Regions from separate parts of the Homo sapiens genome. Here region 1 is linked to region 2. Evidence: fine-mapped expression QTL. A gene starts in region 2. The other region holds a variant in brackets. All regions are shown on one strand. Distances are from middle to middle.

Region 1 (4,387 bases), 69 kb after region 2:
AGTCAAGAGCATTCCCAGATGGCTTCTGCGGTGAGACCCCACTACAGTGCTCTTGAGTTGCGTGAGTCACAGAAGCTTGTGGCTGTGGCCCAAGTCTGGGCCATCTCACACCCACACCTGACAAAAGCAAAGAAAAACAGAGAGGGTCGTGAGGCTCCACTGTCCACACTGAGGCCACAGTGATCCAGGGAGTCCAGCAGCTGTGAGACCAGGCTGCCTAACCATCACCTGGCAAACCAGAGGTTGAAGCTTCATTTGTCGAGAAAGGTCTGGGGGAGTCTGAGACAAGGGCCCTCCCGGAACATCCAGACCCCACTCAGGCAGGAGTGCTGCTGTGGCTGGCACTGTGTCTCAGGTCCTTGCCGTCCTGGCCACCGATGTCTTAGGCTGGGCTCCAGGAAGCGGGGCCTGAGGCAGGGGCTGGGGGGCAGGTGCCTCCTGGAGGGTGTGCGCTGCAGACAGAACCTGTCACGGGGTGACCACCTCAGCACAGGAAGAAGCAGAGCCCTTGGCCCTGCCACTCAGGACACCACAGGGCCAGTCCTCAGGGCAAGACAACGGCCTGGGCCAGCCGGGTGTGGGCAGAGAGCAGCCCACCCATCGGCTCATCACACTGGGAACACGCGTGGCTGTGACCCACCCATGGCCACATGACAGCCGCTGGAGGATGGGGCACCCAGCCTACAGCGCCCGAGCAGCCTCGCTGAGAACCACCACATGTCAGCTGGGCAGAAACCAGGAACCCGCAGGCTCACATCCACCAAGCAGTGTGTCCGGGCAGATGGCGTCTCAGAGGGTGAGGATCCCCCATGATCTCTGGGGACCCACAGGTGAGGATCCTGTGTGACCTCTGGGGACCCACAGCTCCTCATATCCAGCGAGCAGTGCGTCCAGGCGGATGGCATCTCAGAGGGTGAGGGTCCTGCATGATGTCTGGGGACCCGCGGGTGAGGATCCTGTGTGATCTCTGGGGACCCGCAGGTGAGGATCCTGTATGATCTCTGGGGACCCACAGCTGCTCACATCCACCAAGCAGTGCGTCCAGGTGGACGGCATCTCAGAGGGTGAGGGTCCTGTGTGATCTCTGAACTCGCAGGTGAGGGTCCCTTGTGATTTCTGGGGACCCGCAGCTGCTCACATCCAACAGGCAGTGCGTCCGGGTGTACGGCATCTGAGAGGGTGAGGATCTTGTGTGATCTCTGGGGACCCACAGCTCCTCATATCTAGCAAGCAGTGTGTCTGGGCAGACGGCGTCTCAAAGGGTGAGGGTCCTGTGTGATCTTTGAGGAGAACATCGGATGTACATGATTCAGGGTTTTTTGGTTTATTTTCTACGTTACTCTTTTTTGTTTTATTTTTATGACTCCATTTGCTTTGTGTGGACTCATGAAGAATTTTAGACAGCATCCTTTGCCAAGCCATGTGCTGGATGTCATATAGGACGTGGCTCAGGAGCTTACACACATGCAGGGCCTGTAGTCTTAGGACGTGGCTCAGGAGCTTACAGGCATGCAGGGCCTGTAGTCCTAGGATGTGGCTGAGGAGCTTACATGCATGCAGGGCCAGTAGTCCTAGGACGTGGCTTAGGAGCTTACATGCATGCAGGGCCAGTAGTCCTAGGACGTGGCTTAGGAGCTTACACTCAGGTAGGGCCTACAGTCCTAGGACGTGTCTCAGGAGCTTACACGTGTAGGGCCTGTAGTCCTAGGACATGGCTCAAGAGCTTACATGCATGCAGGGCCGGTAGTCCTAGGACGTGGCTCAGGAGCTTTCACGTGTAGGGCCGGTAGTCCTAGGACGTGGCTCAGGAGCTTACACGTGTAGGGCCTGTAGTCCTAGGATGTGGCTCAAGAGCTTACATGCATGCAGGGCCGGTAGTCCTAGGACGTGGCTTAGGAGCTTA[C/A]ACTCAGGTAGGGCCTAGTCCCAGGACGTGGGTCAGGAGCTTACACTCAGGTAGGTCCTACAGTCCTAGGACGTGGCTCAGGAGCTTACACACGTGTAGGGCCTGTAGTCCCAGCGACAGACACAAAAGGAAACAGAAGCCGGTGGACACCCCTGGAAAGTCAGGCCTTTTTAGCCAGGAGAGGTTAGTTTATAAGGAACCATGGATTGTCCAAAAGATCTGATTCAAAACCCTTCCCCTGCCCATGGGGACCTTGTGTCACTCAGCCCTCGAAGTGCATGGCCAGGGCCTCTCCCAGACCAGCTGCTCATCTCCCCCGCCCCAGGTGCTGCCCGGCTGGTGGTTTCCCTCTGGTGGTCAGACCTCCGGTGTGGGCGTGGGGGATCTTGGCAGGTTGTCACGCTCTGCACGCGGCTTCCGTGAGCCTGACCAGGCTCCGGTTTCCTTCCCCACTCCTCACCCTGCCCTGGCTCAGAGAGAAACGGGCACACGGGGCCCTGGATCCCCGTTCCTGGAACGCCTCTCTGGATGCTCACTGAGGACATTTCCCCGCGGGGCCTTCATGCAACGCCAAAGCCAAGGTTTCCGCACGCACAGGCTCCTCGGGAATCTGACCCCAGATGGGAAAGCGTGGCCAGGCAGACAGTCACAGAGTCTTGGCCAAAGCACTTGCACCAGACACCCCCTGACGCCCCACAGCTACAGGGGAGGGCACTGAGGAGACCGCCTATCCCAAAGCAGCTTGCCCCAGCCCCGCAGGCTCAGACGCACGTCCCCCTTCCTGCAGCCCCCGTAACAGCTTGCCCCAGCCCCGCAGGCTCAGACCCACGCACCCCTTCCTGCAGCCCCTCTAGCATCCTCCTTTCCAGCCTCACCAAGGGCTGCACGTGGTTTCTCAAGGAGTTTAGACCCCAGGAAAAAGTAGTTGTGCAAAAAACTCACAGGAGAGCAAAGCAGAATTTAGCAAGTACCATGAGTAGCGTGTTCCTGAGGAAGGTGAAGAACGAGGAGGTTAATTTGAAAATCATTCACTCTTGCTCGGGTCTCCGGTGGGCACGCCCATTGTGTGGCACCTACTCCATTCCCTTCACGGGAAGGCGCGGCTGTCACTCCCTCCAACCATGGGCCTCCGCAGAACGTTAGATGAAAATACTCTGAAGCACAGGAAAGAGAGAAAGAAAAAGATTCGAGGGTGGAAAGAAAGAGGTCAGGAACGGAGGGAAGGACAGACAAGGGATAGGAACACAGAGGGTGTGCTCTCACGGAGAAAGATCCGTGTTAGCAACAGGGGAAGAGATGGATGAAGCAAAAGACAAATGCAGACAGAAATAGAGTTGAACTCATGATTTTTAAGATATGATAAATCAGATTTTTTTTAAACAATAGGGATGCAAAATGCTGTAGGTTTTTTTGTTGTTTTGTTTTTGAGACAGTGTCCCACTGTGTCGCCCAGGCTGGAGTGCAATAGCACGATCTCGGCTCACTGCAACCTTCGCCTCCTGGGTTCAAGCGATTCTTTTGCCTCAGCCTCCTGAGTAGCTGGGACTACAGGCGTGTGCCACCACACCCGGCTAATTTTTGTATTTTTTAGTAGAGACGGGGTTTCACCACTTTGGCCAGGCTGGTCTCAAACTCCTGACCTCAAGCGATGTGCCCGCCTTGGCCTCCCAAAGTCCTGGGATTACGGGCGTGAGCCACCACGCCCAGCCCAAAATGCTGTTTTTAAACATTGCTGTGGAAATTAGATACTGTGCTCGCTTCAGCAGCATATATACTAAAAATTGGAAATTAGACATTGTATCAGATTCCTGGGGCAGCCATAGCTAAGTGCCACAAACTGGGTGACTTTAAGCAACAGACATCAGCCAGGCACGCTGGCTCATGCCTGTAATCCCAGCACTTTGGGAGGCCAAGGAGGGCAGATCCCTTGAGACCAGCCTGGGCAACACAGAAAGATTTCATCTCTACAAAAGATTAACATGAAAACAATTAGCCAGGCGTGGTGGCGTGCCTGTGGTCCCAGCTACTCAGGAGGCTGAGGACTACCTTGGCCCCGGAGTTTGAGATTGCAGTAATCTATGATTGTGCCACTGCGCTCCAGTTTTGGTGACAGAAGGAGACCCTGTCAATCAGTCAATTAATCAATAAAAGGAAAAACAAAACCCCAGAAAGGTCTTGTCTCAGTCCTGGGGCTGGACGTCTGAGATCCAGCTGTCAGCAGGGCCCTGCTCTCCCTGACTCCTGGAGGGGTAGATCCTTCCCATCTTTCCAGCTCCTGGGAGCTCTGCAGTGCTTGGCATTTGGCAGCTCATCACCGCATCCCTCCAGCCTCTGACTCCATGACCGCACTGCCGTCTTCCCTCAACTGTGCTGGCTCCAAATGTCCCCTTTTTATGAGGACATCAGTCATATTGGATTAGGACCCACAGTAACGACCTGATCTTGACATGGCTAAATCTGCAAACACCCTATTTCCAAAATAGC
Region 2 (4,387 bases):
AACACACAAAGCAAGATCCACTTCGTCCATGGACCACGACAAAAGAAACGCTAACGAGGGCTGACACTAACGAGTGCCGATGACATGCTAGAGTCCAGGCCTCCATGTGCACCTGTGACGGGGACAGTCAGGGTCTCACTGTCCAGATGGGAAACTGGGGCGGAAACACCAGGGAGCCTGTCCCAGGGTGCAGAGCCAGTGAACAGTGGTTCATACTGGGCCAATCCCAGCTGCCAGGCTCTGGGGCTCCTGGGGACAGAATCCTGTTGACTTCACTCTGGGGTGGGAGGGGCGGCAGCATCCCCCAAAGGCACCTGGAGAAGTGGTGTTACCCTCCATCCCCCATCCTCGGTGTTACCCTCCGTCCCCCCGTCCCCGGAGTTACCCTCCGTCCCCCGTCCCCGGGGTTACCCTCCATCCCATCCCTGGTGTTGGTCACCATCCTCCTCACCTCCAGGCCCCTCTCCTTGTCCTCCCTCATTTTCCTGTTCACCGAGAGCATGTCACATGACTCTTCCCTTTTCAAGAGGCTCAGCTGCACCCAGAGGCATTCCGGCCTATTCAGGACGGGGGACACACCCTGGGGAAATGCCTGCATGGGGCCAGAAGGGCCTGAGCCCCTCTCACTGTTGCCCAGGAAGGATGGAACACCCCACGGTCACGCCGATTGTCAGGCCCTCTCACTGTTGCCCAGGAAGGATGGAACACCCCACGGTCACGCCGATCGTCAGGCAGGATGAAAACATCGGTGTCCAAAATGTTTTTTTCACTACAACTGTTTGGACCATTCGTGAACGAATCAGTTAAATACCAAGAAGGGCCATTCCCATTTATTCTTTGGCTACAGTTTTCCACCCACCAGCTACCACGCTCCTAGGAATTACTCCTAACGCAGTATCAGTGCCTTGTGCCTTTTAGGAAAACCTCCTTCCCTCCAGCTTTGTCCTCCTTCCACAAAAGGTGCCTCTGACTGCCTCGCTCGCCGTACCAGGATTTCGCTCGGCTATGGAGGAAAATCCGCGTGGGGCTCAGAGATGGGTGGTCCCCGCACACGCAGTGGCTCTGTAACATCCTCCAAGGAGCCTGGCCCAGGCCTGCCCCACACACCAGGACTCTGCCTTGTGGCCCTCAGGCCCCCGAAGCTGCTTTCCCTCCAGGCGTCATGCCCCGGGCAAGAAGGCCGGACAAGGGCCCAGGGCTGCTGTGGGTCGGGAAACCCTCCCGACACCTCCCTCTCCAAAACCCCCCATCAGCATCCCAGCATCTGGACCTGTGTCACCAGCCGCTCTGCCGTACAAGAGAACTGGATTTTCAGCTGGGTTCGCTGCTTCCCTAAACAAAGTAGGGTTTTGTTACTGAGGAAAAAGGAAAAAGCGGGCATCTTCTTGGCAACCTCGCGACATCCAGCCGCCGGTTCTCACCACACCAGAGATGTCCACCCAGGGCAGACAGTGTCTTCAACCGAGCGCCACTGACCCAGAAGTGCAGTAATTAGTACACTTTCACCAGAGTCACCCACTCCTTCACCTTTACACCCAAGAATAACATGTTTGCCAGGCAAATTAGATGTCCGGGAGGTGTAAGGGAAACCCCAAGCCTGCTTTAAGCCTCAGACTTTTGAGATCGTTGAGGGCCGTGCACGCAAGAGCGAGGCTGCGCCCAAAAGCTCTGCTCCTGCCAGACGTCACAAACAGACCGCACGGCTCAGCCACGTGGACGCTTACAGGACTTCACGAGAGGCACCACCGTGGTACACGTGAAGACGTGCACTTCATTCAGCCTCGAACAGACCACGCCCTCATTACGGGGTTGGTGACCCACCTCCCACCATCAGTCCCCCACCTCACCCAGGGTCTGTGTCTGCATCTGTAACGACTTTGCTGTTTTACCGGGGTACTAAAATGCAGCATCGGAATGTTTAAAGGTCTTTAAATATCAACACTCTGGGTCCAGTTTTCGGCACTTTAATGCGGACACTCGATGCAGGCCTCACTCACCACTCTGAGGTAGCTCATACCTTTCCTACCTAACCAAGCAAGAAACTGAGGCACAGAACGTGGCAGGAAAATATGCAGCTTCTAAGTAGCAGATTAGGATTCAAACCAGTGCTCTTCGTCACATTGCTGACCTACCTCTCAGGCTGAGATAACGTCCAAAATTAACCAGGTAGAACAGTGTTCCATAAATCAGCCAGAAATGGTCCTTGTGGATGGGCCTGTGGTTATTCCCTGAAGAACGAGACCATTGGCCCAAAAATCCACCTGTGTCACATTCAAATGTTTACATATCCAATTACTTAAAAAATACCCCAATCAAGCATGTTTACAGCCATTTACAGCCATATAGATTATCTGCTTTGGTGACAATCAACCCAAGACCTCTGTTGGCAACGGGCATCATGCCAGGTCCAGAGAGGGTGGGACAGAGACACAAACAGGAAACGCTCTGTCCCTGGGAGCCTCGCTCTGATGGGCCTGCGGGGACATGGCACAGACCATGCGGCACAGGCGGAAGGCGGGGACACGGCACAGACCGTGGGGCACAGGCGGACGGAGGGCCAGGAGAAGGGGCTGTGCTGCCAGCAGGCAGTGCTTTGAGCTCTAATGGATGAACATTGCTAACCAGCGAAGGTGGAGAGAGGGCACCCGTCTGAGAAGATGAAGAGGCAGCAAAGCACAGCTGGCCTCGGGGAACCGGAAGCCACAGGGACATCAGGCTGTGTGCTGCTGTCTGTCGGCCACCAGCTGGGGGACTATCCTGGACCTGGAAGGGCATCCCTGACACTCCCCACCAGATGCCAGGGGCACCCCCAGCCCCAGGTGAGAACCACGGATCCCATGGCGAATGAGGTCAGCCTGTGGGAAGTGGGGCTGGGACTGCTCTGCACAGCTTAATAGGAAAGTTGGGTTCTATTTGGTGGGGTTTTGGTCATGCCAATGGCTGGTCAGGGCTGTCCGTGAGGAACTGATTTGAGGACAAGTTAGAGAAGGGGCTGCCGAGGCCAGTGGGGCACTCGCTGTCTGGGTCTAAGAAAAAGAAAATAAAGGCTGGTGATGTGACAGTTGGTGGGAGCACAGACGGAAGGAACTGGCGGTGGAGACACACGGTTGGCCCTGCACAGGGCTACGGTAGCTACCTGGGGGTCATCCTATTAATTCTCCTCATGGTCCCAAGAGGCGGCTGTGAGGATCCCTCTCCTGAGGACAAAACTGCTCCAGAGCCACACAGAACCAAGATCCGGGCCAACTCCAAAGCGGGCGATCTTGACCCCTCACCCGTGGTCCTGAGGCAGGGATCGGAGCCCCCTGGACACACAGACACTCCCAGGAACTGCAGGAATGGGAAGTAGATACCCCAGACCAGCGGCAGGACCCAGGGTTTCTGCCCCTCAGGGCACACTGGGACCAGCCACTGCATAGGTGGACACATGGTGCTTTAACCCACACTGGGGGAAGGAAGCCCTCACTCTCAGAGTGGAGACCACAGCCTCCAGCAGGCCCAGCCTCACTGCTTTAACCCGTACTGGGGGAAGGAAGCTCAAGCTGTCAGGGTGGAGACCGCAGCTTCAATCAGGCCCGGCCTCACTGCTTTAACCCGCGCTGGGGGAAGGAAGCCCTCGCTCTCAGGGTGGAGACCGCAGCCTTGATCAGGCCCAGCCTCACTGCTGGGCACAGCCTGAGGATCGCCATACATGATGCTGAGGTGTCCCAACGTTGGGGTGCCCAGAGCCACTCAGCCGAGAATGTGGTGCTTTCTGTAACTGCCCTCATTTCTTTACAGTATAGATCTGGACTCCATCCTTTGCAATGTGTGGGGTTCTAGGAAGAGGCCAGCCAGCCGTGGAAGTGTCCTGGGCTCTGTCCCGGAGACGACGAACTTGGCTCCCCACGAGGGCGGCCTATTCCCCACAGTGTCCCCCGGGGGCCACACCTGCACCCACCTTGCTGAAGATAATTCGCTTTCTCATCCGTGAAAGAATAAAGTCGGATTAACTCATCTCCACACTCACTTCCAACTCTAACAACCTGTGTTAGGAAATCAAAGGTAAGGACTCTGACCACAAACCCAAGAAGCAAAACCCGAGACTCACGGAACGACGCCACCATTGCAGTTCCCAGCTTGACTAGTTGTTTTTCTTTTCTGGTCTGTTCTGCTCTTTTGGTTTAAATAATTAAAGATCCTTGTTGACAAGTAAAAAAAATTCTTTATGAAGCTAAAAAAAGTGGTTCTAATTAAACATTTAAACATTCTTCCATATACTTTTAAAAACAGTTGTAATTATAGCTCTACTTAATGTTAAGTACTTTAACCAAATGAAAGGTTAATTATACAGACTGGCAATTATAAAAAATAAGGTAACATATTCATGGCATTATGAATAATTAAT

Which allele goes with the higher level. Positions count from the first base shown, and alleles are read on the strand shown. Sizes are in standard deviations (SD) of each study's normalised expression.
With allele A in place of C in region 1, the expression in prefrontal cortex of the gene that starts at base 2,486 in region 2 is lower (small effect, 0.36 SD a copy in GTEx).

Evidence for each region.
Region 1: its variant is fine-mapped to the expression of DIP2C-AS2 in prefrontal cortex (GTEx, PIP above 0.99). The same link has a PIP of 0.9 or more in putamen.

The regions. Positions count from the first base shown.
Region 1 is chr10:695,032-699,418 of GRCh38, forward strand. No RefSeq gene overlaps it. Among named protein-coding and RNA genes, the nearest start is that of DIP2C, 7.6 kb to the left of the region's middle. The variant C/A (reference allele first, on the strand shown) is at 1,904.
Region 2 is chr10:626,079-630,465 of GRCh38, forward strand. DIP2C-AS2 (DIP2C antisense RNA 2) reads left to right here and starts at 2,486. Exons shown (of 2, transcript NR_147612.1): 1 at 2,486-2,819; 2 at 3,781-4,387. All of the region lies in intron 1 of DIP2C (disco interacting protein 2 homolog C), which reads right to left. LOC124902361 reads right to left here. Exons shown (of 1, transcript XM_047426106.1): 1 at 1-4,387. RefSeq lists enhancers at 1-119, 120-911, 3,061-4,020.